Linked DNA regions of Homo sapiens: region 2 is linked to region 1. Evidence: fine-mapped QTL for protein levels in blood plasma. Region 1 holds a variant in brackets. A gene starts in the other region. All regions are shown on their forward strands.

Region 1 (16,536 bases):
TAAAGTTGTTATTTATTATGGGCTTTGTACCAAATATTTTAAATATTTTAGCATATGAAAATACCACTTCCCATTATCAAGTCTTCAGGTAACAATAAACTGTTTTAACTAAAATATTACACAGATAAATGTACCATTCCCTATTAAGTTATGATCTTTTTCGAAGAACAAAAAAAGTAAAAAATTTAAATAATTTTAAATTATTTTAGAAATACTAGTACTAATAACGAACATTAAAACTAGTAGGAAAGGTAATCATCATTTTTTTCTCCAAAATAATTCTATTTTATTCTAAAAATGATTATGGATTACATAAGGAGCAATACTCATGGAGATGTTTCCATCAAGAAAGCACATACGGTGCGATGGTCAGGGCTCAAAAGCTGAGAAGCCTGAGTTCTGGACCCGGTATGGTCTTCAGTCACTAGTGTGGCCCCAGGAGAGCCATTTATCATCTCGATTCCAGTCTCTTCACCTGTAGGGTCAGGGCATTAACCGATGCTCTTCAAGTTCCTTCTACCTCTAAGCTTCTGTCTTTTTGAAAGAAGCATATTTCTTCTAAATACTTTAAACTAATTAACTTCTCCTTTAAGCTTCCTGATTAAAAAGAGATTTTTGGTTTTTGTTTTGTTTTTACCATGATTCACTCTCATGCTGACCTGCCATCAACACTGAAGATGTGCTGTGACCAGAGAGTTTTTCAAGCGCTTAGAATGCTAAGCCTGGCACCAGTACCTAACCCTATTGAGCCAGCATCCCGGCGGCTGGCAGCATCCCCTGGGTGCCCAGGAAAGGCTTCCATTCCTCTCCAATGAGCATAGCTCCATGTCCTGCAGAAATCTGTCCAGATGTATTCTAGATTGATGCTTCTCAAACTTCTGTGCATAAGCATCTTTTGGAGAGCATTTCAAAATACAGATTCCTGGGACCCATCCCCGAAGACTCTGATTCACTAGATCTGGAGTGGGCCTGAGATTCTGCATTTCTAGAAAACTACCAGGAGATGCTGATACTACCAATCATGGACCACACTTCGAGTCAAATGGCAAAGTCCTATTCTCCAAGCCTCCAAGCAGCTTTGAGATCCAAGAAGTACTTCCAAGGCTCAGACATGCTCCCTAAAGCCATGAAGTCTATGTCACATAGAAAAAAAAAAAAAGAAAAGAAAAAAGAAAAAGAAAAGAAATGAAGAAATGGGCTGAAGTTGTTTACCATCTTTAGGATAAAATTTGAATTTCTTTCCATGGCCTGAGGGCCCTACATAATCTGGCCACTTTCTACTTCTCTGACGCTGCCTTAACTACCAACCCAATCCCAAACTATAATCAATGTAGATACAGTGGTCCTCCTTTTGTTTCAAGCAAGGCAAGTGTCTTCCCATCTCAGGGCTGGTGCACTTGCTATCTCAGCTTCCCAAGATGCCATGAGCCCATTCTTTACACAACTGGTCCCTTCTCAGTACTGGGACTTAGGGACAAAGGCCACTTCAAAAAGCTTGTCCTGCCCACCTACTTAAGTTAGGTTCCAAGTTAGTCTCAATTATATCATCCTATGTGCTTACTTCAGAGCTTTCGCCCTGATCTATTTGCTCATTTGTCTTCCCCACTAGAATATAAGCTCAATTAGATAAAAGAACTATTTCTTTTCATCGCAATGCTCCAAAATTTCAGAAAAATGCCCAGCTCATAGCAAGTACTCAATATGTATCTTTTGAGTGAATAAATGAATCAACAACTGAAAGAAGTAACTTTTCGGTACTCTCTAAAAATATAATTGCCATTTGTTGAAAACTCATTATGTACTGGGTATTGTTTTAAGTCTTTTATAATCATTATTTCATTCTATTCTTACAACAAAGTTCTTAGCAGATATTATTATTTTAAACTCAATATGTGGATAAGAAAACTGAGGCACAGGGAGTTTTAGCAGCCTGACTCAACTCTATAAAGCTTGTGCCCATGGGAACTCTATATTTTCCAGCCAATACCCTAATATAAAAGTCCTGAGTTTTTGTGATATACCCTTCTGACTCAGGCTTGCTCAAGTGAATTTTGGCACTACCTGACCATGCTGGTACTAACAATCATGGGCCACATTTTGTAACAGGCAGGTAATGCAAATGAGCGAGGAAGGCCAGGTGTAAGGTAACAGGGAGAGGGAAGGAATGTGGCAAGCTGAGAAATCCTCACTTTATCAGCTTCAAGGGGGAAGCCATTGTACTTCCCCCTCCAATTACTGCCACATGGGCACATACCCTCAAGAACCTCAAGAGCTTTCAATTCTACAAATAAAGGCAGTAATCTAGATTTCTATTTAGTAAAATTCCAGAATTTTTCAAAGATGGCAGCTAACTTTTTAAATAAGTTATATTTAAACAAAACAAACATGTTGCAATCCCTGTAGCAAAGGATGGATGAGGTCATGCACTGTCTCCAGTTTTATGATTCCAGAGTGATTCAGAAGCACAGAGAAGCAGTACGGGTGACACAGAAAAGCACAGTAGGTGTCTGGGCAGATAAGAGCTTTCTAGAAGAATTCATTATCTTGAGGTTTTGGGAGGAATTGGAAGATTGGGTGGAAAACGCATTTCACAGGTCAGAATATCATACTCGAAGGCTTGGGGGTGAGGAGTAGGCAAGTCAACAGCAAAGATCAGCCATGAGGAGAGGGCTGGTGGAGGTTTCCTGTGGGAGTTTCGTTTTCATTCGGACTGGAGTGAGTAGCAGCTTTCTAGCTAAGACATAAATCGGTTAAACAATACTCTATGTGGCCGGCCACAGTGGCTCACGCCTGTAATCCCAGCACTTTGGGAGGCCGAGGCGGGCGGATCACGAGGTCAGGAGATCAAGACCACACTGGCCAACATGGTGAAAATCCCTCTCTACTAAAAATACAAAAATTAGCTGGGTATGGTGACGCCAGCTACTAGGGAGGCTGAGGCAGAAGAATCGCTTGATCCAGGGAGTCGGAAGTTGCAGTGAGCTGAGATTGCGCCAATGCACTCCAGCCTGGCGACAGAGCAAGACTCTGTCTAAAAAAACAAAAGAAACAAACAACAACAACAAAAAGACAAAAAAAAACAATGCTCTATGTGTATGGTCATTAGTGCTGTCTTATTTGACTTCTAATATTTTAAAGTAACCAGGCATATCTAAAAATAAAGGGTGAATCACCACTGTGGTGTGTGGAAGTGTGTGTGTGTGTGTGTGTGTGTTGTTAAGAATTCAACAGTCACAGGACTGAATTCCATCTTCATGGAACCCCATAGCTAACTAAAATACTTAACTGTTCTGAACTCTAGACATAAAAAAATACAGCAACTGAAATTTTTAAAAATACCAGAAGATAGATACCCAAATAAATTATCCTTTCCACAGTACAGAGGCAAAAACAAAAAAGAAAAGAAAAAAATGACAGAAACCCCCACCCGCCTACGTAGAATTGTATAACTAGAAAAACTATCTCTTAAAGCTGAGGGTGAAATAGAAGCTTTTTCAAACAAACAGAAGTTTATCACCTCTCTATAAGGACATTCTAAAAGACTTACTTCAGACCAAAAAGAAACAATTTCCAGGAGAAAGTTTTTTGATTTAAGAAGGTAGGGAACAGCCAACTTGTGAAGTAGAGTAAGTGAAAAGTAAATGCACTAACAAACAATGTGCAAGTCTCAAACATTTTTTTAAAATGTAGCAGTACCCCCACTTGCTTTCTACCCCAGCTCACGGTATTTACACTGTAGCAATATCAATCACCAAGGCCATGGACTGCAAATGTGAGTGTGCAGGGAGGCACCAGCTTGAAGCCCAAGTTCCCACCCTCCATAGTCCAGAGATTCTTAAACAAGTTCCAGGAATCTGCTGTTCTACCCAACAGATACCCCAGGTAACTCTGATAAAGATCTGAAGAACACTGCATTGCTCTCTGACTACTTTAGGGGAAGGAATTATTCAGTGAACCCCCAGGGGCTCATCCCTGGGAGGCTCCAGCTGAGAACACTATCAAACCTTTGTTCTTTTCCACTTCACTACAGCCCCAGAAGTACCTTGGCCCAGGAGGTCAGCAGTAACCCTGCCTCAACCCTGCTAATCAAGAGCTGCAATAAATTAAAAGCCCATT[G/A]AAATATTTTAGAGAAAAGCCGAGAAGTGCTGAAACATTAATTGTGCCATATTCAATCTGTTTTCCTAGAGATTTGAAAAGCCAGATTACCATCTTGGGGGTCATTAGAAAGAATGAAGCTTTCTCCCTTTTCAATTTACATATTTAAAAATGCATGCGTTCTGGCAGTGGCTACTAAGTCCTTTCCAACGCTTTCCAAGTCCTGTGGCTACTCCAAATGCCACAGTCTAGCCATGGAGAGAGAAGCGTGGAATGCCACCGGGGCCTGCCTTGTTTCTGTAAAGCAAAGGAACCCAAATCCCAGGGCCTGTGGTTGCAAAACAGCTCCAGAAAAACAGGTAGAGGCAGAAACAAAACAACAAGTGATGTTTTCTTGTTTTGTTCTCCCCTGTTTATTTTTCCCTGAAGCAATCCCTGCTCAGTACAAAAGTCTGCAGGGAGCTAGAAAGAGCAGCTGTGGTTCCCTGAGGCCGGGACCTAGCAATCAAGTTGTTTACCAAACACTGCCAGGCACCAGGAAAACAACAACAGCACAGACAGCATTTGCATCTATTTTTCAACCTCCAAAAGTCTGCCCTGGAACTTGCCTGCACAGCTGAGAGAAGAGCTTAAAAATTAAAGGAATGAACTGCACTGGGTATTGGCCTCCATGGCCTAAATGTAATCAAGTATTCCATTTCTATTGAAGAATGTCTATCCTAAAAAAAGAGGATTGAGGAACTGCAGAATTTCAAGCAGTGGATTGATAACAGACAACATGCTCATCACGGGCATTTCTGAGCATGCCAACAAAGGCCCTCTCAGCAAACTGACATCATATGCTGAGCCTCCAGCAACTCACAGACATCTTGACCAAGCACCAGGATCTCCAGGGGGGTTTGTAAAACACAGATTGCTGGGCCTCTCCTGCAGTTTTGCATTCCATAGGTCCAAGACGGGGCCTGAGAATTTCTAGCAAGTTCCCAGGTGATACTGATGCTACTGATCCGGGCACCATCCTTTGAGAACCAGTGCTCTAAAGCTAGAGGCTCTATCCCCACCCTGAAGATCTAGGAAGGAGTTCATTTCCCACCTTGACCTCTCCCATGGGTTACCTGGTTGAGTTATGGCAGTTACCTTGCATAGCTGTTTCCAGAACAAAATGCATTGGATGGTTTCCATCTGCTTCTCCAGAGGCTCCACTCACTATCCCCCACCCAGCTCTGTGTCCTAGAGGGCCGCTCTCTGTCCAACCAATGGGAGCTCTCATCTCAGGACGCCACAGAAGATGGGGTATTCATTTCTCTAGTTCTGAGTCCCTCTTTGACCAGTGGCAACCCTGCCAGGCAGCTCTCTCCACACAACTCCTCTCTCTGGGTTCTTTCAGCCCTCCTCTGCCTCCCCTAGTCCACTTAAGGCCTAGGAGAACTAAAAGCCATCTATTTCCATCAGGGACCCTTATGCAAAAGTCAAATTCAATGTGTTGCCCACTGGATCTCCCTTGGTTTGAGAATGCTAAATGGCAATTTTATACACACACATAATATACGTATGTATATACACACACATATAAACACGCACAAGTATACATATGTGCATATAAACATACAGACATGCAGATATATACATCTTCATAATTGTTCGTTTTTAAATGCAACTAAATCAGATTGGCCAGAAAACTTGGGAGTCCCCTGGCCAAGGCCACCTCATGGAGTTTGCATGGATGTTTCCTCGGGTCCCACGTGCCACAGCAAGAGTGAGCCTGCTCTGTCTAATCTGTTACACAACCTGATAAGAAGTGCATTTGTGAGAGCTTCAATCCTTCTCTAATTTACAAACTTAGTTTCCTTTGTTGCAAATGGCACCAAAATAGAAAGGGAACAGAAGTGGGTGGAGCGGGCTCCATCACCAACTCCTGTGAATAACTTTTTGACAATGCTGAACCCAGTTCAAAAAAGCACATCAGCTGCAAAAAAAGGTATGTGTTTGTCAGCTCATAAATAAGATGCCAATCCACCTCAATTCATAGGCTAGGAAAAGAAGAACAAATAATACTTCTGTTTTTAAAATAATAATAATAATAACTCAAACGTGCCCTAAATAAGCATCTGTCTTTAGCGCTAAGTTCTAATAAAGTTCTGGTAAAAAACGGTCACCAGATTTAACCAAATGGGTCACTACACCAACCTCCATGGTTTGGGCAAGCCCATTTAACTAACTTTGTTTCAGTGAAGTTCCCTAAAACTAACCAATCACTATTCCTTTTATTAATCTTCCACTAGTAAGGTTTCTTTCAACTCACCAGAGGACTTATTGGTATCTATGCTCAAAAACAAATTTTTAAGTAAACCCACTAGACTAATTAGAACACATGGGGAATTACGTAATTACTTTTCTAGCTCTGAGGCTCAACCTGAAACCTTTTCGGTTTGTTTGTTTATTGCTCTCTTTTTCACTAACAATCTCCTGAATATTCCATGTGAAACTCGCAGGCTAGTGAGATTTTTCCTGTGGCATCTGTCTGCTCCATTCCCCCATCTATGTCCAAACCCTGCTCTAGAGAACAACTGACCTAACTGATCACTTCCCCTCTTTGGGGATGAGATAGACCATCATCCTGCTGGCTTCAGAACACTCCAGAATCTCCCTTCTGTGCTGAAGAAACTCCACTCCTCCTTCCCCTGGGCCTTAGTGCTCACCTCTCTCCACCATCTTCCACTACCATCATCTGGATGAATGGAGAGACTTGCCTTTTACCCTTAAAGATGTCCCCTCTCTCCTTTTCCAGAAGCCACTCATTCTACATCTTTCAACTTCAAGCAACTAAAAAAGAAAGAGTTGGTCTCTCTTCAATTCCTGTTACAGCCAAGTCGTTCCTCTGCCAACAGCCCACCTCACCTGTCACCTACCCTCAAGGAAAGTACCATCACCTTCCTCCACCGTGATTCCAAGATCCATGGAAACCTTTCTATTCATAGTCACATGTAAGGGAACCACCGCTTCCTGCCCAGCCAACTGGCAGTTACTTCTAAATGTCAAGGATGGCTAGGCACAGTGGCTCACATCGTTAATTTCAGCACTTTGGGAGGCTGAGATGGGCAGATTATCTGAGGTCAGGAATTCAAGACCAGCCTGGCCAACATGGTGAAACCCTGTCTCTACCAAAAATATAAAAATTAGCCAGGTGGGGTGGCGGGTGCCTGTAATCCCAGCTATTCGGGAGGCTGAGGTGGGAGAATTGCTTGAATCCGGGAGGCAGAGGTTGTAGTGAGCCCAGATCAAGTCTCTGCAGCCTGGGTGACAGAGTGAGACTCCGTCTCTAAATAAATAAATAAATGGCAAAAATGCTCTTCAACACCTTTCTCAGGTATTTTACTACAGAGTGAGCATCACTAATCAAAAAAATCCAAACTCTGAAATGCTTTTCTTTTTTTTTTTTTTTTTTTTGAGACGGAGTCTCGCTGTGTTGCCAGGCTGGAGTGCAGTGGTGCCATCTCGGCTCACCACCACCTCCGACTCCCTGGTTCAAGCGATTCTCCTGCCTCAGCGTCCCGAGTAGCTGGGATTACAGGCACGCACCACCACACCCACCTAATTTTTGTATTTTTAGTAGAAAGAGGGTTTCACCATGTTGGCCAGGATGGTCTCAATCTCCTGACCTCATGATCCACCCACCTTGGCCTCCAAATTGCTGGGATTATAGGCGTGAGCCACCGTGCCCAGCCCAAAAGGTGAAAACACTTTTGAACAACAACATGACCTTTCGAAGAAAATGTTCATTGCATGGGTACAAAAAAATAGAAAGAATGAATAAGACCTGGTAGTTGATAGTACAGCAAGGTGACTATAGTCAAAATAATTTAATGCCACTAACCACCTTGAATCCATTGCTCCTCCCAGTGCACACAATCCACCTTCACGTTTCTGAACTCGGTGTCTTTTACATCATCTAAGACTCATATTGTGGTACCCAGTGCCCTGAAAACCCTGGTATCCCTCAAGATGGCCTTGTCTTTTCTACTGACTTCCTGTTCAAGCTCTTTGGTTTCTTTCGCAGAGTGAGATCAGCAAGGCAGGGTCTGGGATTTGCAGGTTATATCCTGGATGGTGGCACGACAGCGCCTGGAACACAGAAGGTTGGGAGGCGTGACGCTCATCAGGAAGGCTCTTTTGGGGAGCCAGGAAGAGTCCCCCAGAAGCCCACTTGGCACCCTATCTATAACAAGTTGCTCTTTAAGAATCATGGGAACTCCAGAATCATTTTCACAAATACCTTCCACTCATGATTCAATTAAATGGCAGAAAACACAAACCTTCCGTTCCCACTGGCAAACTGGGTCTAGCTAACTGAGCACAGCTAGCACAAGGCAGGCCCCCTGCTAGCAGGGCAAGTGGCGGCCCGGTCCCCAAGGCCCAGGGGAGCCTCTGCAGCTCCCTGGAAGGACGGTCAAGTGAACAGAGAGCTGGCTGCCATCTGGGTTCTTTATAAGGCTTTTGTGGTAAACATGTTTACTTTCTTTTGATTGGCTAGGCTTATCAAGTATTTTGTTTTGAGTCTTGCTCTATAAACATGTTTACTTTGAGGGGAGAGCTTTTTTGATAGCTAGCACACTTGTTTTTCACACTTTTAAATTCAAAACATATTTTTCACAGCCTGTGGTAAACAACTCAAGGTGGTAAACAAATTATATTATTTTCATCTTCACACTAGAGAGGTGATCCCTATGTATCTATTCAAAGGCTTGAACTGGGTTGCCGGTAACCAAGGCTCTCTACTGGATGAGAACAAGAATTATATTCATAATGATGATGTTACTAAAAGGAAAACATTACAATGGCAAATCCTGCAGTATCAAACCTAAGCCTCAGTTTCCCCAGTGGGAACATTCTAGAAGAAGCCAGCCATAACAACAGCAGGGGTAGTCCTATTAATTGATGACATCCATATTTTCCATGAAAAATTAAGGTTATGTAACCGGCATACATAACAGCTAATACGGGAGGAAAAATCAAATAATGTTTCAAAGAATGAAGAAACCAACTAGGTCACAACACTAAGTGCAATTCTTTTGAGATCTGTTTTCTGTGATGATTTTTGCCTGCTTTACAATTAGAAAAAAAAAAAAAAACAAGTAGTAGCCTCTAATGTAAAACTGAAAAGCCTTCCATTATTGGAAAAGGAGTAAAATAACAAAAGAGTTAAGAGAAGAAAAAAAAGGAACATATCTCTTGAGAGAAAACCAATGGTCCCTGAAGTAGGATTTAAAAGTGCTGTTTACATAGAGGCATCAGAAGAGCCCCTCTGTGGAGGTAAGTGTGAAGTCCCATAGCAGTGGAGCCAAATCTGTTTTCTAGAGAGTTCTCTTGGTCTCCATGTTCCAACTAGAAACAAAAGCCATCTTACCAGAGGCCTTTGTAGTTAGTTACAAATTACTTAAAGGAATAAAAATACAGGCCAAATTACTTGCTAAAATAAATAAAGCCCCCAGCCCCCAAATCATCTTCTAAGCTTATGCTCAAGTTAAGTTAAAAAGCAAACAGAATTTCAACATGATGAAACCCCATCTCTACTAAAAATACAAAAATTAGCTGGATGTGGTGGCACACACCTGTAATCTCAGATACCCGGGAGGTTGAGACAGGAGAATCACTTGAACCCAGGAGGTGGAGGTTGCAGTGAGCCAAGATAGTGCCATTGCACTCCAGCCTGGGCAACAGAACGAGACTCTGTCTCGAAAAAAAAAAAAAAAAAAAACACCACGAATTAAGGTTGTAGCACCACACTATGGTAAACCTCCTCAGTGACTCGATGTTATTATTTCGTCAGGTATGGTACTGTAGGGAGGGGAGAATGGCAGAAGACACAGGAAGCCTGTATGGAGCCTCATCCATCATTCAGGCCAGATCATGTACAGAACATACAGGCATCAGAGTACAAACATACTAAGTAGCCTTGTTTTCCAAGGTTATAACATGCTCTGGGGACATGCTCATTAGGGGGTCAGGAGAAGGAGCCAAGGGCATTTGGAGGCAGCCACTATTCCTGACTTTCAGATTCTCTTCTATCAAGGAAGAAGACCAAAATAAATAATTTCCAGGTAGTTTTAGCAGAAGTGCAGCAAGACCCAGGGGGTGAGTACACATCACAAATTCCCAGGAAGATCAACGCCATCCCAGCTTTGCCAACAACTGTTTGAGATGTTTCGCAAGTCAGTGAGCTTCTCGGAACCTGAGTTTCCCTTCTTATAAAATGAAGGCATTTGAATCCCATCTTTTTGAACAATACTATGTCATAATTTTATGCCTCAAATCGAAAAAAACACTTTGGGGGATAACCGAGAATTCCAGGCTACATCATCCAATCAATACAATACTTGGAGCACTTTCAAAAAACCCACCAAGGAACCAAAGCTACCATAACTTAAAAGGAGCAGAAACGAAATTTCAGATTAATATGACGTTGGCCAGTGACTAGTCATCAAGCATACTTCAGCATTTAGTTGTCTGAGCAGACAGGTGACTCAGCGGGAAATGGGTTACCCAGCCAGCCACGCTCATCTGACCCACTGCCTCAAAGTAATTTTTCCTCAATTTTCAAAACCAAGAAAGTAAATGACTAATGAAATGACTGAAGAATAACTTCCAGACAATTCTTACATTAAAAAATAAAACCAAACTTCAGCACAACAGTAAGTAGATGAGAAGAAAACAACCCGGCTCAGAGCTGTCCAACGTCTGATGGCCACAGTTCCTTCTGACAAAGGAAACGTGCACATTCCAGGGTGTGTGGAATGATGTGGTTTGGAAATGTCTCGAGGCGCCAAGGGAAGAGCTGATGATCAGGACAATGTCATCAAGAAAAGTGTCACGGAGCCCAAGTGGTGACATTTCTGTTGCAAATATGAGAAAGGAAAGGAACACGCTGGTCCTTCACCCTGGTGTTCAATGCGGTCGTAGGACTTTTGGATATTCTCCTGGGTACTTCCAGTTCTAACACCAACTAACATGTGCAAAGCCTGTGCTGCACTGCACATGAGGTACTCTGTCCATAGCATTTTCATCCACCCTCTTATTAAGCCTTATAACGGTGGCAAGAGTAAATGCTATTATCTTACAGATGAACGAACCAAGGCTGGTGAAGGGAAGTCCTTTACCCAAGACCACAGTCAGTGACAGAGCCACATCTTTCTGAAACCCAAGCCTCGTCCCTTAACCACCAGTGAATACTACTGAGTACCATTTTTCCAACAGCTCAAACAGGAAAAGTAGGAACGTTTGGAATGGTTCCCAAAATAAAGACAACCTGGCAACATAGAGTTATAATTCTGTTCAGACCTCTACGTTGCCTCCCACTGTCTAAAACCCTTGGCTTCTTGCGTGAAGTCAGGCAAACCCGGGAAGCAGAAAAGCAAGGACCCAAGTCACCCCTGGTAGTGCAGCTTGGAAATGAGACAGGACATCTCCCCCAAGACAGGAGACAAGGAGGGAGTTTATGACGGCATATGAGGCATGCACTCAGTCCTCCTATTGGACTGTAGAAGAGGGATGCTTTTTTTTTTTTTTTTTTTTTTTGAGATGGAGTCTCACTCCGTCGCCCAGGCTGGAGTGCAGTGGTGCAATCTAGGCTCACTGCAATCTCCGCCTCCCCTCCCAGGTTCAAGCGATTCTCCTGCCTCAGCCTCCAGAGTAGCTGGGATTACAGGCGCTTGCCGCCACGCCCGGCTAAATTTTTGTATTTTTAGTAGAGACAGGGTTTCACCGTGTTAGCCAGGATAGTCTCGATCTCCTGACCTCATGATTTGCCTGCCTCGGCCTCCCAAAATGCTGGGATTACAGGCGTGAGCCACTGCGCCCAGCCCTGAAGAGGGATGCTTTCTATTCTTCTCTCGGTCTCCCTTCAATTCTCCCATTTTCTTCTGAATCACAACTGTGGGCATCGTCCCCCTTCCTCTCCTACTTCTTCCCCTCCACGAATGTCACCTGTCACTAAAGTCTAAAGGATGAGATTATCACTTCCGCCCGGAAGCCTCTCAAATGAAATTAAATCAAACATTTATTGCACTGTGGTACCACATGCACTGGGTGAGGTGGGGGATACCCAGGCACAGTCTGCCTCTCTGGGCAAGAAGTTAAATAACAATGTGCGATTTAAATAACATTTCAAGACAACAATAAGAGCCTTGTCACCGGGAGTACATGATTAATTGCCAGATGAATTCTACAGACAATAATTGCTGCAAAGTTCAAAAGGAGGGAGCAATCACTTCCAACAAATATATCCCAGGTTGCAAATTCTCCACTGAGCCTTAGTTCGCAGTTGGCTTCGGCAGTGTTGGGAGTTGGCTGCCTGGGGTCCGATCCTGGCTGTGATACTCGTGGTCCAACCCTATTTAAGTTTTCTGGGCCTCTGTTTCATCAGCTGCAAAACAGAGGTAATGATACTTCCTACATCATGGAGTGGTTTGAAGATTAAGTGGGATAATGCATGTAAACCTTGAAACAGGGCAAGTGGTAGTTTTACATCTCCTGTCTCCACGGCGGCGTATCTGCTATTCGAATCCGCACACGCTCCCTACACTGGCTCCCCCTCCTCACCTCCCTGTGTTTGCCAAATCCCCAGGTTTTCTTTTCCAACTAGCTGATAACTTTTCCAACTAAGGGGTTCCACGGTATCCTTCCCCCAGTACCAGGCAGCTACTACGTCTGCCCTTGACTTAGGCTCGCTGCTAGCTCTTGCATCCAGATTTCCACCTCCATTTCTAATATCCTAGGACAAGAGCAGGAAGCTGAACAACTGGGGGAAGCTGGTCCTTCCCCTCAGTACCAGCCAGCTACCACGTTTGCCCTTGACTTAGGCTCAGTGCTGGCTCTTGCATCCAGATTTCCACCTCCATTACTAATATCCTAAGACAAGAGCAGGAAGCTGAACATCAGGGCACCTGGGTTCAGCTCCCAACGTTGCCATAGAGTAGCCTTGTAATTCTGCACACTTTACAGTTTCTCTAAACCTCCATTTCTGCTTCTATAAAATGGGGCTAATGAAAGTCCCTACCTCCAAGCATTGCTGAGATTAAATTATCCAATTGGAGAGCACTGTGCTCAATGCCTAGTCAACCAGCAACGGCTCCACACCTGAGAGCTGCTGTTCTCATCTTTGCTTGGACCACACAACTAAGTGAACAACAGTGTCCCCGGCTGCTCTCTCCTCTCTCAAATGTGTGAGCTGCTGCCAGTCCTTCATGGTACCAGATTTGGGTCAGCGAACCACAGAACTTAATTATGCCCCAGTTTTCTTTCATGCCCATTGATCTAATTTTACATTAAAGTTTCACAAATAGAAACAGGTACTCTCATGCACAGCCAGGGCCAGGGTAAACTGACACCGCCTTTCCAGTTGGGTGGTGATATGCTTCAACAAGACTTAGAATCCCTTCCAAAGAGTAAGGAGTGAACAGGAATGCATGCTTTTAACAAAATAGTAATCACTGGGGAGAATTCAACTACAAGGTCACAAAGGAATACATCACAGCATTATCTAGTATATGAAAACAGAAAAATAAATGTCAGTTAAAAACTATTTCTGATTCATATGATAATGAAATATTATGCAACCATTAAAAAGTATTGTAAAAACAAACAAGGGCATAGAAGGAAACGTGAGCCCCAAATCATACCTGCTTACCAAATGTCTATTGAATGATATGTTGCAAAACTGCTTTTTTTTTTTTTGAGATGGAGTCTCGCTCTGTCACCGAGGCTGGAGTGCAGTGGCACAACCTCGGCTCACTGCAAGCTTTGCCTCCCGGGTTCACGCCATTCTCCTGCCTCAGCCTCCAGAGTAGCTGGGACTACAGGCACCTGCCACCATGCCCGGCTAATTTTTTCTATTTTTAGTAGAGATGGGGTTTCACCATGTTAGCCAGGATGGTCTCGATCTCCTGACCTCGTGATCCACCCACCTTGGCCTCCCAAAGTGCTGGGATTACAGGCATGAGCCACAATACCCAGCCCAAAACTGCTACTTTTTAAAGTTATTTGAGTACTTACTGTGTGCCAGCTGACAGGAATAAGCACATTACATATGCTAGGCTACTGCAAAATCCAATGAAGTGTTATTATCCCCATTTTACAGACAGCAAATGGAGACACAGGGAAATAAAATAACTTGTCCAAATACACACAACTAGTAAATGGATTTAAACCCAAGTCTTATTCCAAAGCTCTTGCTCTTTTCTAATGAGTGCTGCTGCCTATAAACTTATTAGTATATTTATGGCTGCATTAAGTATATTTCTATAGGGGGAAAAAGGACTAGAAAAGCTGACAAAAATACTAGAAGTAATTCTTTTTAGGGGGTGGCACTACAGATAATGTTTATTCTAGCTTTGATTTGGTTTTTAGATTCTTTACATTTATCATAAATCATGTTTGTAATAAAGGGAGGAAATTTGGGGGACAAAGTATTTTTCTGTTTTAAAAGCTCAAATGGCAGCCACCATCTTTCCCTCACTGTGACAGAAGCAGATGCTAGGCAGGCGCTGGGCTCGTGAGGGAAGGCAGTGCCTACCCAGTGGTTAGAGGTCCAGGTGCTGGAGTCAGACGGCCTGGGTGCAGAACTCCCAGAAGCTCTGGGGAAGCTGCTCAGGCCTCTGTGAGTTAGAAATAGGCAGGTATGTACAGGGCTTGGATCAGGGCTCACAGATCCTGAGGGCTCTGTAATATGAGTGATACTCATTGTTTTACGAGTGACATCTTCACTCTACTCAATACGTTTTATAGCCTCTTTCTGCAGATGGAACCAAAACATCGTTAAGGCAATGTGTCCCAATATCTTTTAACCAATTATCGTAATAGATCCTACAACCACCCCTCTCTGGCCCCCAACCTCCCAAGGGCTTAGGGCTGTCAAAGAAACAACTTAGGTCTGCAGAGTGATACCTGCCTTGGAATTCCAGCTCTGACCCTGGCTGGCTCTGAAATCTCGTGGATGTCACTTAACTTCCTTGCCTCAGTTTCCTTGCTTACAAGATGAAGAGGGCAACAGCTCATAGCTCACAGGATTGTGGTGAGGACAAAAGGGGAAAATGTATGTGAGACACTGAGCTCTGCATTCAGCCCACTGGGACTTCTCAATAAACCTGACCCATCATGACTACTTTGGCATTTTCTGATACAGCTCCACTCTCCGTATGGATTTCGCCAGTCATTATGGGTTTCTTCCTTGTAATGGTTTTCTTGCCATCATTTTTTCATATTTAAGCATTGTATTATAATAGAGAATAGAGATGAAGCATGCCCTTGTGCAGATTCTGATACTGTATGCTCCCTTATTAGTCAGCCAGGGCTGCTGTAACCCAGTACAAGAGACTGGGTGGCTTGAACCACAGGCATTCATTAATATTTGCTCATGACTCTAGAAGCTGAAAGTCGAAGATCAAGGTATCCACAGGGTGGGTTTCTCCTGAGGCCCCTCTTTTTGGCCATCTTCCCTCTGTGTCATCACACGGTCTTCCCGTGTGGGTTTTTGTTAGAATCTCCTCTTCCTATTAGGATACCAGTCACACTGGATTTGGGCCCATCCTAATGATCTCATTTTTAATTTAATTATCTCTTTAAAGTCCCTATCTCCAAATACAGTCACATTCCGAGTGAGGTACTGGGGGTGAGGGCTTCAGTGTATACATCATGGGGGGAGGACATAATTCAACCCACAACAGCTCCTCACCTCCTGAAAGGACAAGCTAGGCCCCAAATTAAGAATCAGTTATGCTCTAGGAGGCTCAGATGGGAGAATTGCTTGAGGCTAGGAGTTCAAGACCAGCCTGGGCAACATAAAGAAGCCTCTGTCTCTACAAAAAATTAAAAATTAGCCGGGCTCAGTGACATGCACCTGATTCTTAGCTACTCAGGAGGTTGAGGCAAGAAGATCACTTGAGCACAGGAGTTTCAGATTGCAATGAGCTATGATTAGGCCACTGCACTCCAGGATGGCCAAGAGAGCAAGACTCTGTCTCTAAAAAGAAGGAATCAGGCCAGGCACGGTGGCTCACGCCTGTAATCCCAGCACTTTGGGAGGCCAAGGCGAGCAGATCACCTGAGGTCAGGAGTTGGAGACCAGCCTGGCCAACATGGTGAAACCCCATCTCTACTAAAAATACAAAAATTAGCCAGGCGTGTGGTGGCAGGCACCTGTAATCCCAGCTACCAGGGAGGCTGAGGCAGGAGAATCGCTTGAACCCCGGAGGCGGAGGTTGTAGTGAGCCGAGATTGCGCCATTGCACTCCAGCCCGGACAACACAGCAAGACTCTGTCTCAAAAAATAAATAAATAAGAAGAGTCAGGCCATGTGCGGTAGCTCATTCCTGTAATCCCAGCACTTTGGGAGTCCAAGGCGGGTGTATCACTTGAGGACCAGCCTGGCCCACACAGTGAAACCCCGTC
Region 2 (16,703 bases), not on the chromosome of region 1:
GAGCTAATTTTGTAAAGGCAAGCTATAAGCAGAAAGAAGAGCAGGTGCAAAAGTCCTGAGTTGGGACAAAGCTTGTCATATTTTGGGAGTGATATGAAGGGTGGCCTTGGGACCAGAGCAACATGATAGAAGAGAAAAAGTGGGTATCTTCCATGTTCTCCTTCTCCTAACTTCCACTGTCCACCTTGCCCTGTGCCCAAGAAGGCTGACTTCTAAGGGTTGCCTCAATGGCACCCTTGTCCTCTAGTTTCTGGTTGAGTTCAGTCACTGGGGGGCACTTGTAGGAAATGAGAGGAAGGGAGGAGAGTGGAGTCAGGAGATTTATTTCCTTGGCTGCCTTTCTGATGGGTTGTCTCCTGCTGGCTGCATCCTCTACTGAAGGCTGCAGGTCCTGTCAGTTCTCACACCAGGCTCAGGCTTTGGGTGGTAATGGCTCCCTGCTGTGACTGGGCATAGGGGGATAAAACTTCCCATGTTGCTTTGCCTAAACTCCACACTTATCTTTGATCAGACTCATTTTTTAAAGATCACCCTGGTTGCTTTAAAGTATGAACTGGAGGGATGGAGGTATACGGCAAGAGGAAGGGAAGCAGAGAGAGACTGATAGTAATGTAATTAAAACCAAGACTGACTTGGAAGAAATCTTGAATGTATAGATACTGAGAAACACAGGACTCAACTCCATTTATTCTTTCAACTTTTTCCATGACTATTTACATGCCAGGCACTACTATAGGCACTCAGAATAGATGGATCAATACATTATATTATTAGATAAATAAATTATATAATAATAAATAGATGGATAAATAAATTATATAGCATGCTTGAACGAGACAAGTGGCAAGGAATAATTAAAAAGTAGAACAAGGTCATGGGGTTTGGAGTACAGGAGTGGAGAAAGAGGGTGCAATTTTAAAAAGCCCATCACTGAGAAGGTGACATTTGAGCTAAGGCTTGGGGAAGGTGAGGAAATAAACCATGTAGACAAGAGGGTCACAGTCAAGGCTCCAACGTAAGGGTGGGTCTGGCCATGTCAGCAGCAGCAGAGGCCAGTGTGCCTGGAGCTCAGGGAGCTAGGGAGAGTAGAAAGAAAGAAGGTCAGACAGGCCACAGGAGCAGCAGAGAAAAAGGAACTGCTGGTTTCTCTTCCCTGCCCCCACCCCGCCCCCTCCATGAGTCAACAACCCATCCTCTCTTTTGGGAAGAGCTGAGGACTTTCACACAGGCTCCTCCTGGCCACTGTTTCATGCCTTATTGAAAGCGGGGCGGGAGGTGGGGCCGGGGGGAATCACTAATCACTCTTAGTTTCTCAGATTACATTCATTCGAAGTATACCTATGTAGTGTCTGACAAGAAATGCTGGCCTAATTCTTCAAGGATTGTTAATTGCACCACTAATCTTGCAGAAGAGTTGGCAGCTAAGTCACTTTGGGTCACCGGAGGACGACTGGCTGGAGGATGGGCTTTAGAGCACCAGAGCAACGTTATTGATTTTCTGCTCCACTGAGGAAGATGTTAAATTGTATTTTCAGAATACCACTGGGAGAAGGAAGAGGAAAGAAGAATAGTCTCTCTTACTACTCCCTCCCTCAGTGAGGAGTAAATTTAAAATAAACCTTTTGTACAAAGCTTTTTATTGTGAAAAATTTTGAGAGGATAGTATATTGAACGCCTGTGTATTCATTGCCAAGAAACAATAATTATCAACTAATAGCCACTCTTATTTTTTCTCTTTATCTATTTATCTAACTGTGTATTTTCTTTTCTTGGGTATTTTAAAGCAAATTCCAGGCATCAATATCTGTTGAGCACTTACTATAAGTCAGATGCTATTGTAGATGCTAGGAATACAGCAATGAAAAATAGTATGCAGACAAAAATCCCAGTCCACATAAATCTCACATTCTAGATGTGGGGGAGAGATAACAAATAAAAACAATAAGTGAAGGTGCAATACACTGGATGGTGGTAAGTGCAATGGAGAAATAACAAGCAACTGATAAGAAGGGGGATTGCAGGGGAAGGGGTTACAATTTTAAATAGGGGGCCAGAGTATGTGTGGTGAGCATTGAGATACACTCCTCAGATCCCCCTTCAGGACACAAAGACTTATTCCTCCAGCTGCTGAAAAGAACCTCTTCATCCGAGGTCATGCTGGAAAGGCTCACACCCCGTGACTGATCTACACAGAAATGTAAAAGCTGAGCCCTCCCACTCCAGCTCAGGACAGCTCTGAAGAGTCCTCTCATCTTTAGAATTCCTTGTAGGTTTGGCAAGGTCTTCTATTGAGACTGCATTGCAGCTCAATTTGTCCCTCTGCCAAATCCTACTTCTTTCCCATTCCTTCTCTTCCATAGGAGTTGGTTCAAGAGCACTCCCTAACAAACTTCCTGCATACTAATTTCCACTTCAGAGTTGGCTTTCCAGGAAACCCAACTTGAGACAGTAGGACTTCCTAAGAACATGACTTTTGAGCAGAAAGATAATGTATGTAGGGGACTGAGTCATGGAAATATCTAGGGGAAGAGCATTCCAGGAAGAGAAAACAGCAACAGCAAAGATCCTGAGGTAGAAGAAGCAGGCCTGTTGTGTGTGAGCAAAAGCAAGGAACCTAACATGGCTGGATTAAAGAAAGCAAGGGAGACAGCAATAAAAGATGAAATCAGGGTTAAAGCAGGGAACCAAAAAGTGTAGAGACATACACACCATTTAAGGACTTGGTTTTTTCTCAGAGCTGCTTCAACTTTCTAGGCAAGATTTCCAGATATTTTTAATCTTCCAGAACCATGAGTCAGGTAAGTGGATTAAACCCACATGGATCAAGGAAGCCCTCGTGCCACACATAAGAGGGGCTTCTAAGCCACCATTACCACTCACTTGAGAGCCCAGCTTTGGACAATGCTCTAGTGCTACCGGGCCAGAGTTTCATCAGTCTCTAGGTCATTGTTTTTCTTTGGGAAGACTTTAGAAGCTCCCTCCGAGGAATCTAACATGGAGCCAAGGCAAGGAACAAGAACTGTCACCTTGGTCCATTGGAGACTGCCTGCATCTGGACATTGATTCCTCAGTCCCTTGCTATCATTTTTTATCAACCAGGATCTGGTACAACTAGATAGAAGCTGCTTCCCACTGTCTATGGTTGGGTTGACCTCTAGGGAGAAATTCTCTTTGAGTTATCACATCCAGGCCCCAGATACTGATGTAGAGGAAATACTACTTCATGGAATCTGAAATTTAGAAACTTAGACTCTCTTAGAATCTATAGATAAGAACTTAAAAAGGGGCCAGTTGTGGTGGCTCACACCTGTAGTCCCAGCACTTTGGGAGGCTAAGGCAAGTGGATTGCTTGAGCCCAGGAATTTGAGACCAGCCCGAACAACATGGCAAAACTCCATCTCTACAAAAAAAAAATTAGCCAGGTTTGGTGGCGCACGCCTGTAGTCCCAGCTACTTAGGAGGCTGAGGCAGGAGGATCGCTTGAGCCCAGGAAGTTGAGACTCAAGTGAGCCAAGATCATGCCACTGTACTCCAGCCTGGGTGATGGAGCGAGACCCAGTCTCAAAAAAGCAAACAAACAAACAAACAAATACTTTTTATAACATTAAAAAAAAAAACCCAGAACTTAAAATGGGAATCCTTCTGCCCTGTGGAGACCTCTCACTGCGTTCATAAAGAAGAGAAATGGAGAGCTAAGGTCTGCCATGAGTGCTGGCGTGACGCTTAGACTGTACCCATTTCTACATATCCCAGCCAGTCCATTTCAGTTCCTTTAATGGATCTGGCACAACCAGTCAAAGCAGGAAACAACCTGCATAAAAAGCTACTGTAGGTGCCTAAGCACCAAGTCAAAAATTCTTCCAGACCAACCTTCTTCCTAGTACTCCGGTTCATCAATTCACTGAGTTTCGCTGCCCCTTTAAGCAGTGAGCTCTGGTTCTTGCTTTTGGATCTCTTGCTTTGGTGACCCAGTTTATGCCATTGATCACAACTCCAATCATGCCTTCCTTTAAGACATGATTCTTGGCACTTGTTCATCATCTTCACTCATTATAACCATGGAGCAGAAACAACTCATGCTCAAAGCCCACCACACCTAATGACAGAGGAATCCCAATTCCTGCCACCCTGTAATAGTCACAGTAGGCCCAGAGAGCAGTGATTTCGTGGAGCCCCTTACTTTGAGCAAAGTCTCTAACTCCTTTAGCCCTGCCACATTCCTATGCTACTAATCAGCATCTGTATGACCTCCAGGACAGGGGTGAGTCAGGGCAGGTGCCCTTCTCCACCTTGTCCTCTACCTGACCTCAGAGGTCCATGAAGGATGACTCTGGTGCACCTACTGCTCTGTCACCTCTGCACAACCCAGAGAAAGGTGCCTTCCAGCAGCCAGAGGCCAAGCTTCTGATGCTTACTCTCTCCTCCTTAGAAATCCAGATGATCTTGACCAACACTTCTAAGAGTTTGAAGCAGCTCACTCAGGGCCAGCCTGACCACCACACTAATGAAGGGGGTCAAGAATGGCCTTAACTTCATGCAAGCTGAACACACGTTGCATGGCTAGTACCTTGTGAAGATTCAAAAGGGAGCACATCCCCTCTGTATTTTAGCAGATTCCCCAAGGCTGAACCCTATAGAAAGAAACGCCACTTTGTACCTTTTATCTCCCTCCCTGCTAACCCCCATACCTGCATCACTGAACAGGGGGAAGAACTAGAATAGTTTCCTATTCCAAATTCCTAGTGCCACAAATCCCAGCTCCAGAGCCTCACAGGGCAGAGGGTGGGTGCTAACCTGAGGAGCATTTGGGAAGTCTTAGCCCACCTCAAGCATGCCCATGTCTACCTGGCGGCATTGTCCCTGGAAAATGAGGGAATGGGCAGGGCTAATGAGGAATTTGTGCGGTTTGGCCACTTGAAATATACTCCTGGAATACACGTGGAAAAAAGGTACCAAGTCTCATGTAAGAGAACTGCTATAGATAGATTCATAAGATGATAAGATTCCATTCAACAAACACTTATGACCTCTTTACTACATACGCTAGGCACTGAGGTAAATAGATGAGTACTGACAAGTCCCTCCCCTCTAGGAGGTTACAATGAAAAGGACATGTAAGTAATGACAGTACACTGTGAAAAACTGTTTAGAATGGCACTCAAGTAGTAGCAGAGTGTCAGAGAAGACAAAAAAACCCTCCCACCAAATTTTAATTTCCCTTCCACTGACCTTATCACAATGTGTTCTCACATCCCAAATGAAAACAGTTTATTACAATTGTCTGAAACATAATGGAATATGAAACATTGTAGTATATAAAATTATTTACATAGACTGTGTTGTTTTATTGTTCTTTTCTGATTATAAAACAGCATAGTACATACTCATGTTGAAAATATAAGGAGCTCAGAACTGCATAATGAACAAAGAAAAATCCTAACCAGGTAACCATTGTAAATATTATGGGAAATAGACTTCCAGATAAATTTCTAGGTATGAGCATGTGCACACACACACACACTTTTTTGTTGTTGTTGTTTTTTTGTTTTTGAGGCAGGGTCTCACTCTATCAACAAGGCTGGAGTGCAGTGTTGCAATCATGGCTCACTACAGACCCGGGGCTCAAGTGACCCTCTCACCTCAGCCTCCTGAGTAGCTGGGACTACTGGCATGCGCCACCATGCCCAGCTTATTTATTTATCTATTTATTTATTTATTTATTTTGTGGGGGTAGGAGAGATGGGGTCTCCCTATGTTGCCCAGGCCAGTCTCAAACTCCTGGACTCAAGAGATTCTCCTGCCTCAGCCTCCTTAAGCGTTGGGATTGCAGGCCTGAGCCCCTGCGCCCAGCCACACACACTTTCTATAATAGGAAACACATTGCTGATAGGCAACCTGATATTTTCACTCAATAATGCTAATTCATTTTAAATACTATATTTAATGGTGTCATGTGCATCTGTTGTTTTCTGTTTACTTTATAGCCTCACCCTGATTCCTTCTGGGAAGCCATTCTACCCTTGTGGTTCTGGAGTGAACACTCAAACATAGTTCTTGCATCTTCCTCCTATGCCCCCAGGGTAGGTGACTGACCCAATCTGGTTCAACTATGGTACAAGCAAGATAAGTGAACAAGACAAGTTTACTACTTTCTCCTCCTACCCACTCTCAGATTTATTTCTGGCACCTTTCAGTCTGTAGGTGGCCTATATGATCTTGTCATTTGGGCCCACTTTCCTTATTCATGTGCCCTTTTCTTTTCATTTCCATGCCTTCACTTTCCTTAAGTCTTGTTATTTGCTCATTTACATTATTCTTTGTTATTTCAACTTTCCTCTGATGGTGAATTTCTAGATTTCACATTTATTTCTCCTTTCGTCTATATCAGCAGCCACCTCTAGTGCTGGCATCCTGTGTCAGTCTCTTTCACAGCAACAGATCCATTCCTATAACTCTGTAACTGCAAGGGCCTTGCCAGCTCAGGCTCTCTATTCTTAGCCCTTTCATGAACATCTCTTCTGTGAGACTACGCCTTTGTAATGAAAGTGCTGAGTGGAGAATTGTCCTGACAGTGTCAAGATCCTCCAATGTGGGATAGCCATCATAGCCTCAGGATTTGAAGACCAAAGGTAAACAGGAAACCCCCCATCCCTTCATTTATTTAAGCAGATGGATTTCTAGACACTGTAAGAAGGGCTGAGAAATCAAAGATGAGTGAAACAAGATCCTTTCCTTGAAAAATTCACAGTCTAGTGTGGTAGAAAGCCAGATATGTAAGCATGTAATCACAGTGAGAGATATAATTTTATAAATATATGTGTAAAGTTTTCTTAGAAAAAATGTGCAACAACAGGACATACCCCTAAAGTTTGCATTGGTTATCACTATCAGATATTTCCCCTTTTTCCTTATCTGTATTTTCGGAAGTTTTTCCTTCAATATGTATTTATTATTTTGGAAATAAGGAGAAAGAAAGCATCTACACAAAGCAGCATATGGGATATATGCCCAACTGGGAGTGTGCATGGTATCCTGAGGAAGAAATGATCTCATCTAGGAAGTCAAAGAAAACCTTGCAACATCTGCCCTTCCATTCTTACTCATATGTGTCTCTCACATGTCAACCAAATGCAATCGTGGTTCAAGTAAACCAACTGTAAAAATATTTACAGTATGAGGCAAGAGGGGGAAATTTGAATCTGACTGGATATTTGATGATACTATGGCATTATTATAATGAGGAGGAGGTATGTTAAAAGCATTGCAGTAACATTAGAAAAAATAATCCTTATCTTTTACATAAATATACTGACATACTTTGACATACTTATGGATGAAATGGTATGAAGTCTGGGTTTTTGTTGTTGTTGTTGTTTGTTTGTTTGTTTGACAGAGTCTCTCTCTGTTCACAGGCTGGAGTGCAGTGGTGTGACCTTGGCTCACTGCAACCTCCACCTCCCGGGTTCAAGTGATTCTCCTGCCTCAGCTTCCCAAGTAGCTGGGACTACAGGCGCGTGCCACCACGCCCAGCTAATTTTTGCATTTGTAGTAGAGACGGGGTTTCACCATGTTGGTCAGGATGGTCTCAATCGCTTGACCTCATGATGAAGTCTGGGGTTTTTAATGGATAAACAACTCATTGGGGTATGAAGTGGACGGAAATATAGAATAAAAAGAATGGTCATGAGTTAATGATAATTGAGGTTGGGTAGTGGATTCATGCATGCTTATTTCAATATTTCCTCTACTTTTGTGCTTGAAATTTTCTATAAAAATACAATAATAATTAATATATTTTTTCTGTAATAAATGAAAGCATCCTACAAATGTCTCTACCTTCAAGACTCAGCTCAAAAATAATATTCTCCACTAGTGAATGAGCGCACCACAATTGTTCCATTTGTGTTGACAAATGAACAAGCAGCATTGACAAACTCACTGTGCATTGTACATTGTTGATTTAATAATTATCTGATCTGTGTCAATGTTATTTGTCTTGTAATTTCAACATATATTTTCATATTATTCCATGTTTATAGTGTTCTCACACATAAGAATCAAATATTTTAATCTTTTTATTATTAATAAAAGGGCTGTCTTCTCTTTGAAATCTTTCCTGACCATTCATTCCATTATTTGGACAGACTCTACTTGAGCTTTGCAAATACAAAAAGGACACATAACACTCTCTTGTACTTATTCATTCACTTATATTTCAATAAGAATAGTGTGTTGCATGTGAAACCTGTTCACCAAATAGTTGTTGTTATATTCACAATATTTTCTCTCTACTAGGCTATAGGACTAGCAGTGACTAGTGTCTTACTTGTCTTTGTACACCCAGCAACTATCTCAATACCTGGTACATTTCAGATGCTCAATAAACACCTGTTAAGTGAATTGATGAATAAATACAATTTAGGATTACTCCATTCACAGACCTATACTAAGTCCAGTGGTATCATCCATAAGGCTGAATAATGTAAACTAATTCATGCCTATGTTTTACTCAATGCTCCACCACTCATTTGATCAGAAACATAACATGATCCTAGATTTAGTGTCCATTTAACATAATCACTTTAAGTCCAAATGGCAGAAAGAGACAAAATACCCTTTTTCTTTTGGGCAAGCAATGCAATGTACTCAACAGACATCCCTGACCTTCATCCCATCCTGAATCTCTCCCAATTGCAAACATGTATTGAGGAGATAAATGAGTCAGGAATGGGACAAAGGACAAAGTGAAGCTGAGGGATTAGGTCAGTGAGTCTCAGGATCAGTGAATGGCTATTTCAGATAGCGTTGGGTAATGTTTCATAAAAGCTGAAAACGTTTCATGACTTATTTTCTTAGGCTGTATCAAAATATTCTTGGTATCAAAATGACTAGTTCAAAACATGTACCCATTTGATCTTCATAATAACAGTGTGAGGTAAACAGAGCCTGTCATTTCCATCATAAAGAAAAGGAAACTAAGGAAATATACCCTTCATTCAGCTGGGATTTTAAAATATGACTTAATTTTTTAATGCAGTATACTGGGATAATAATGCTATGTTATTACTGCCAATAAAGAGTTTTTTGTTTTGAAGGAGCTGTTAGATTTAGAATACTCTTTAGATCCTCAAAGGAAGTATTTGAGTGACTTCCAAACTCAAAAACCTCCGGAGCAAGGGAGATTTGTTTGTCAGCTTGGTTGTTTGTTTGTTTTTAGGTACTTGAATAACTTCCTCCTTGAAAAGGAGGGTGCAGAAATCAAAGGCCTGATTGTGCTGAATCCTTCTCTTTGGTCATTATTCAGACTGGTTCCCAGCATGCCGCAGTCCAGAGGAAAAGGTCCAAGTTCTGTTTAAAAATCAGAGACTAAAGAGCTTACTCAGCATCCTGCTCACATTAATGTTGCTTGTTTTCATCATTTAAAGTCTTTTGATAGTTCCTTGTATACAATAACCTTAGGCTTCTGGGAATATTCTCAGAACATAGGAAGCACCTCCCTGACTTAGTAAAGATGAAAAATGCTTTTCATGACTATCCCCTCTCTTGAAGGACCCCCTGGAACAGCCAGGTCTTTGGGCATAATTAAATTCTGGGCAAGATTTTACAGAAATGCAGCTTCTTTTTTCTAATTTAGTTGTGTGGTGTGTGTGTGTAAAGTGGGGGAGGTTCCACTTGGTGGGGAAAGGAGAATTTGCCATTGCTGCTCGTCTACTCAGGACTGTTTCTGTTGTTGTTGTGTTTCAGCATCAGAGAGTGAGAGTGTATTGCAGCAATCTGACTATTTGGAAGACTGTTCCTTGAATTTCCCAATTCAAAAGCCTCGGTAGAGCTGAGGGATGCTTGATACGTCAACACAGACCACAAAAGGCAGGGCTTTTCTAAAGAGATTATAATTATATCTACCTTTTGGGTACAGGAGGTGAATGGAAGGAAGGGATTCTGGAGCAGATATCCCAAAAGAAGAATCCCGAAGCAGAACTCCTCGCACAAGGTTATCTAAATCTCCTTGACAGGTGCACAGGCAGAGAAGGCATTTGGCCCTTGAAGTAACATTTACTTGAGAGGTTGGGACAATTCTGTCACGCTTAGGACAAGCCAGCTGACCCTGAGCCCAGGAGCACCCTAGGACTGCAGCACAGAAAATACACCAGCTGGCCGGTCGCCCCTCCTTTGTTCCATTCCCGGGGGATTGGAGTAGCGTTGGAGTCACCGACGCCATCCCCTCCCGCCTCTGGCGTGCATGGAGCATGCGCTTCCTTCCTCACTTCCTCTGCAGGAGGGAGCGAGAGTAAAGCTACGCCCTGGCGCGCAGTCTCCGCGTCACAGGAACTTCAGCACCCACAGGGCGGACAGCGCTCCCCTCTACCTGGAGACTTGACTCCCGCGCGCCCCAACCCTGCTTATCCCTTGACCGTCGAGTGTCAGAGATCCTGCAGCCGCCCAGTCCCGGCCCCTCTCCCGCCCCACACCCACCCTCCTGGCTCTTCCTGTTTTTACTCCTCCTTTTCATTCATAACAAAAGCTACAGCTCCAGGAGCCCAGCGCCGGGCTGTGACCCAAGCCGAGCGTGGAAGAATGGGGTTCCTCGGGACCGGCACTTGGATTCTGGTGTTAGTGCTCCCGATTCAAGCTTTCCCCAAACCTGGAGGAAGCCAAGGTATGTGAACACTTTTCTTCTTCCTACCTTCCTTTTATTTCGCCACGAAAAGGTAAAGTTTGGCATAATACGTGAGCTGTAAATCACCCTGACGCGTTTTCTGATCAAATCATATCCATGAATACGGACAGAGAAATCAGTTCGAATTTAGAGACAGAAGACAGATTTTTTTTCTTCACTTTTAAAATGATAGAGCAATAATATGGGTTGTTTTTAAAGATCTTATTTTGAAAAGGGAAGGGAACCTTTTTCACCTAAAGTGGCTTGGATTGTTTTCTAGTTGCCTTACAACCTTTCTCAGACAGTCTATTCATTATATATGCAGTATATGATGAAAGAGCTTTTAGTGTGCCAATAATACCAATCCAAATTATGCTCTCTCTAGCTGAGAATAGCTGATAACCCTAGTGTTAGAACTATATGTTAAATTTCTGGTCAGAAAAAAAAAAAAGTGTGATTCTGTCAGCTCAAGAAATACACCAAGATAATAAACAAGGCAATATTGATAATTACTATTATTGTATAATCTTGATAATCTTTGTTAATATGCATTTGTTTCATAGTCATCCAAAATTATTTCTCCTAATATTTTTCCTTTTTATAAAAATTTTATTTAATAAGAGGCATATTTTGTCCTTCAACGCACAATTAAATTTATATTCACATGTGTTTATTCTAGACAAATCTCTACATAATAGAGAATTAAGTGCAGAAAGACCTTTGAATGAACAGGTAGGTCAAAAGTAACATTATGAATGCTATTTCATTTTGATTTAGTTATTATTATTTAATGTAATTATGCTGTGACATTTTGGTCATTTTGAATTTACAAACATCAGGAACTTAATAGTTAATTGACAGAAATTAGGACGGGAAATCTAGTTTTGGTAAATTCTATGCCCTAGCAGTTATTTACATTGAGTTCTGTATAATGAATACATAGAGTAACTATATAATAACCCAGTAAGCTCAGCATCACATCCACTCTGTTGTAAGATTGCCTAATTTACCAGAGATTTCTCTTTCAACAATATTATAGGAGAAAGAAATTAACACTGACTGAGCATCTACCCTTAATTTTATCTCATTTAATTATTATAACAGTGCTCTGAAATAGGAATTATCCACATTTTACAAACAAGACAATTAAATCCCATGGAGATTAAATCATTTGGCTCTTGTACTTGGTAAGTAGTGGAGCAATGATTTTAAACCAAGTCTATCTCCTGTTTGCTTCACAGATTGCTGAAGCAGAAGAAGACAAGATTAAAAAAACATATCCTCCAGGTAAAAAGAAATCATATTGATGTTAATTTAAATAATGTAGGCTATGAGAATCTGAACTAAAATGGCTGTGTTGGGTTTGGGGCTATTCTTCCAGAAAACAAGCCAGGTCAGAGCAACTATTCTTTTGTTGATAACTTGAACCTGCTAAAGGCAATAACAGAAAAGGAAAAAATTGAGAAAGAAAGACAATCTATAAGAAGCTCCCCACTTGATAATAAGTTGAATGTGGAAGATGTTGATTCAACCAAGAATCGAAAACTGATCGATGATTATGACTCTACTAAGAGTGGATTGGATCATAAATTTCAAGGTAAATGAGAAAAAAAGAACTTTTTGTTAACGTGGAGTTTCCTATAATGGGTTAAGAGAAAGTCCAATATTTTAAAAATATCTTTTAAACATTCATAATCCTTTATTAGTCAAGTCCAAAATTGAGATAAAGCATATATTTACTGATAACATGTAGAGCCCCAGCTCCACAGAGTGCCATATTTTATTTTCCCTTTAAAAATTCCTTTAGTGATGCTCTGAAAACATTTTTTAATCTAGTATTTGTATTTTATGGTATTAAATTCATTTGAACATTCAGATTTATTTTAACAATGAGTACACACAAAATATCATAATTTTCAAATAATTAGATCAGTAAAGTACCCTCCCACCCTGCACAAAAAAGGTGAAATATCCACTATTTCCTTTTCAGTGTTTCCTCCTAGCCATATCTTTTCTCCTTAGGTCATCCTAACCTTTACGTGGCTTCAATTACATCTATATCCTAACATCCCATATCACTAGGCCAGACTTCTCTTAGCTATAGACCTATTTATCTGTTTACCTATTCGACATTTTCCCTTGGCAGTGTCAGAAGCACCTCAAATTTAGCATGCCCATGATTAAACTCATAATCTGTGTCCACTTCACAACCTAGACCTCTTAGAGTACTGTTTCTTTAGGAAAGGCACTACTATCCATCCAGTTTTTTAAAGACAGAAATCTAGGATCAAACTATTTATCTTTTCCCTCACCTCTCAAATTCTAATCTGCCAAAACTTACTAATTTTATGTCTGTGTATCTCTCAATTGTTTTTCTCTGTACTTGTCCAAACTCCAATCCTTGTCCAAGCTCCAATTATGTCTCATGTAAACTATAGCAAAATCTACAGTTCTCCCAGCAACCACTCCGCCTCTCCCCAACTCATTCTTCATTTGGCAGCCAATGTGGTAGTTTCCTTACCCGAAGTCAGGAGTTCAAGACCAACCTGGCCAACATGGTGAAACCCCATCTCTACTAAAAATACAAAAATTAGCCAGGAGTGGTGGTGGGCACCTGTAGTCACAGCTACTTGGGAGGCTGAGGCAGGAGAATCACTTGAACCCAGGAGACAAGGGCTGCAGTGAGCCAAGACCACGCCACTGCACTCCAGCCTGGGCGACAGAGCCAGACTCCATCTTAAACAAACAAACAAAACAGGAAAACCAAAGTCCTTAATGAAGCTTGCACAGTCCTGCATGGACTGCTTCCTGACTACATTTCTAGGTTCATCCTGCACACATAATCTGATAGAAACCTTGTTCTTGCCCTTCATGGCACTTCATGCAGTTTGTAATTTTACCTTCATAAGTGTGATTATTTATGATTAATGCCTTTCTCCAAAACTAAACTGAAAACTTCATAAGAATAGAGACATTGTAACCCCAGTGCCTGGAAGCCCATGAATTCATTGAATAAATTTATGAATGAATGAATGAATGAACAAATGAAATAATATATGAGGGAATAAATGAACTGCCATACCTAGGCATTAAGAAGGAAAGTGTGTTTTTCATTTTTGAGAACCAGTGCTTAGGAGTAAGTACAGGTTTTCTTCCCTGTCCTTATTCTGTTCCATAGCTACAGGAGATTTATGTTGATTATCTCTGCCAGAAAACAACTGACTATTAAATTGGACTTTCATAGGACATAATAACCTAGGAGTGTTCTGAAGTGTCACGTGTACCTATGAAGTGGGATGGAGGCAATGGGTTTATATTTTGACATATATCATATGCCATGCTACTCAGGGAAATTTACTTTTTAAAATCTTGAATTCGACTTTTTTACCTAAAATATTGGGACTACAAATAGACACTGATTATAACTGCATACAAAACAGATTCAACCACTTCAACTGAAGTGATCATTTGATTTAATAAAATAGCCTAATATTGAGTTGGCTGGATTGGTCAAACTTGTTGTACATGCAGGCAGAGACATAGATCTGTTTTTGATCTGACCGCTAATTTGAGCAACTAATTTTTTAACTGTTCAACATTTTATTACCATCCCAAGTATGTTTGGAACTACAAAGTGCTAGTCCTAATGACTTCAGGTTTACCGTAGGAGGTATTAACTCCACTTGAGATCACAGAGAAGACAGGCCAAGGTTCTTGGAGAAAATGATTTGTGAGTAAGCTTCTGGTCTCCCCTTGTGCTCTGGAAATCCTGAAACCAGAGGGTTTTTGGCCACTAAGTTGAATAGAACCTCAGATGCATGTAGACTTCATCCCAGAGGGGAAGGTAAAGGAAGCTAACTTCTGCCGGATGTGTTCCCAGACCTACTCTCGCCTTTAGGAAGCTTCCAAACAGGCTTGTACTATAGGACCCATCAATTCTCCTTTTCAGTGTTTTCTATAGTATGCACAATTTAGGATCTTTCCAAATTTCTCTTATAAAGTAGTGCTTTGGGGCTCCTGTATGCATTCGAATATTTATTGAGCAATTGCTATGTATTGGACTATGAGGTAGACAATAAACCCTGTGTAGTCAGGGAGCATGCCTAACCTTTACATCACTCTATTTCCAGTGTCTGACACATAATAAGACTTTAATTAAAATATATTGAACAAATGAATGTCAAGTGCTATGTTAGATGCTAGGGATTCAAAACATAACTGGGCAGATGATGACTTGGGACATGACCCTTTGACATTCACTTAGAATGTTGTGGCTACTTAACAAAAGTTATGTGTTAAACCCATGTTTGGCTCCCCTCTGGGAGTCTATACATGGAGGGTGAAATACCCCTTCATGAGCAGGAGGGAAGCCATTCTGAGTCATACTATCCATTTTAGAATAGTGAAGGAAATCAGGGAAAGGTGAGGAGCAATGGTCACACGTTCCACTGTTTACACCATCCAGCAAAGCACTGCTAGGGGAGACCTAAGTTCCTGGCTCAAGAGAGTACAGCAGTGCAGCAGAGCAAAGACTCTTCAGTGGGTTACTAACATCCTCCCTGTTGTGAAGTAAATGGACTGAAAAACAGTCATCTCAGTTATTTTCCAGGTCTAGGAGGCAACCAATATTCCTCCTTTTACGGATCCTGAGGGATAGATAAGTGGGAAGGGAAATAAATTCTTCCACCTCTGCATAGACTGGGGCAGTTTCTGCTCTATGTATTCCTGACAGCCTGACTTGCAATCCGCAAATGGAAAAATCAGACACATAATAGTGAGTCTCTGCTCCTGAAAAATAGATGACGATCCAAATTTTCAGCCAGCCAGGAGGAGAACTGATTTTATGTTTGTTTGTTTGTTTGTTTGTATGTTTGTTTGTTTGTTTTTCTTAGGGGCTTTTCTGCTTTTTTGTCTCTCTGGTACTCAGCTCAAAGGGCTCATGGCTCATGGGCTGGCCAACAGCTCAGCAATTTTGTACTGACAGAGAACTTCCAGTCCTCCATGTATAATTACCCCCACTCATTTTCCTAAGCTTCTTTCCAAACAAGAAAGAGATATTCTGCCTGAGGCTGCATATACCTCTATTTTCATAGAGTCTGAAAGAAAAGCCACGGGATAAATTCCCTGTCCAAATCCCCAAAACCCATGGAAGAAAAGAGCAGAATCAGAATAGAAATACTAGGCTCTTCTTTCTTTGAGTGAATATGATGAGGATTGTCTGGGCAGAATCTGGCCGGAGATTCAATTTCCATTTTCTCTAGGAGATAATTGCTGTTCCTTTGTTTCAAAATACAAATCCACTGTGCATAATAACAATAATACATTAGCTTTCATATATTAGGTTGGTGCAAAAGTAATCGCGGTTTTTGCCATTACTTTTAATGGCACAACAATCCCATGAAATAGATACCTTGTTAGACTCCTTTACAGTGATCCAAGGATATAGCTAACCAGAGATATCACTGGGGCTAAAATTCTGATCTTTCCAATCTTTCCAGAGGAAACAGGGAGAATTAAGTGCATTGTAAATTTGATCCATTCAATGTAGTATAGATTGGAGATGACTAATAATTGATTCCTGGAAGATCTCCATGGATGTGCTACAATGCTTCATTGCCACCAGCCCTTTCCCTCAGGATGGGCCCTTACTTTAGTCTGAAGTTGTATTGCCAAATGTATTCCTAGGAGAGCCAAGGGAGCATATGAGCATGCTTCTCTGCAAAGATTTACATATTGCTTTGTGCAGATCTGTTGCCATATTTTAAAAGTTTAAATTCCGGGCACATAAACTACAGTAAGATCCCTGTTCTCTAAGGATGAGTTTTGTCACCTTAAGCTGCCTTTTTTACATAAAGACACTCTAATACAAGTTCAATTAGAAGTAAATATTTATTTTAGGTGAGTCATAAAATCTTCAGTACACACTGTCTGATTCTGGGTGTGAGGTAGAAGTCCCTGCCCCTACCCCAGGAATTTGCCTGCAAAGGTAGTACATGTGGGGATATTACCAAACTATCTATTCCCTGTATGGAACTGGAATATCAAA

Which allele goes with the higher level. Positions count from the first base shown, and alleles are read on the strand shown. Strength reflects both the effect of a copy and how common the allele is.
For the plasma level of the protein whose gene starts at base 10,323 in region 2, allele A in region 1 goes with a higher level than allele G (weak association).

Evidence for each region. A credible set is the group of variants that fine-mapping cannot tell apart. PIP is the chance, under the fine-mapping model, that this variant and not a neighbour inherited with it causes the effect. Protein levels are from antibody-based Olink assays in UK Biobank. Linkage for the fine-mapping came from a reference panel and not from the study's own genotypes, which makes the PIPs less certain.
Region 2: it holds the start of SCG3, and the variant in region 1 is the best candidate, but not a certain one, in a credible set for the plasma level of the SCG3 protein (UK Biobank, PIP 0.73).

Annotation. Positions count from the first base shown.
Region 1 is chr3:71,493,772-71,510,307 of GRCh38, forward strand. The region is part of intron 2 of FOXP1 (forkhead box P1); the gene reads right to left. Among named protein-coding and RNA genes, the nearest start is that of MIR1284, 40 kb to the right of the region's middle. RefSeq lists enhancers at 3,678-4,616, 9,845-11,044. The variant G/A (reference allele first, on the strand shown) is at 4,117.
Region 2 is chr15:51,671,181-51,687,883 of GRCh38, forward strand. It overlaps SCG3 (secretogranin III), which reads left to right and starts at 10,323. Exons shown (of 12, transcript NM_013243.4): 1 at 10,323-10,657; 2 at 11,337-11,389; 3 at 11,899-11,944; 4 at 12,039-12,254. The coding sequence starts at 10,576. RefSeq lists a cis regulatory region at 1,021-1,338.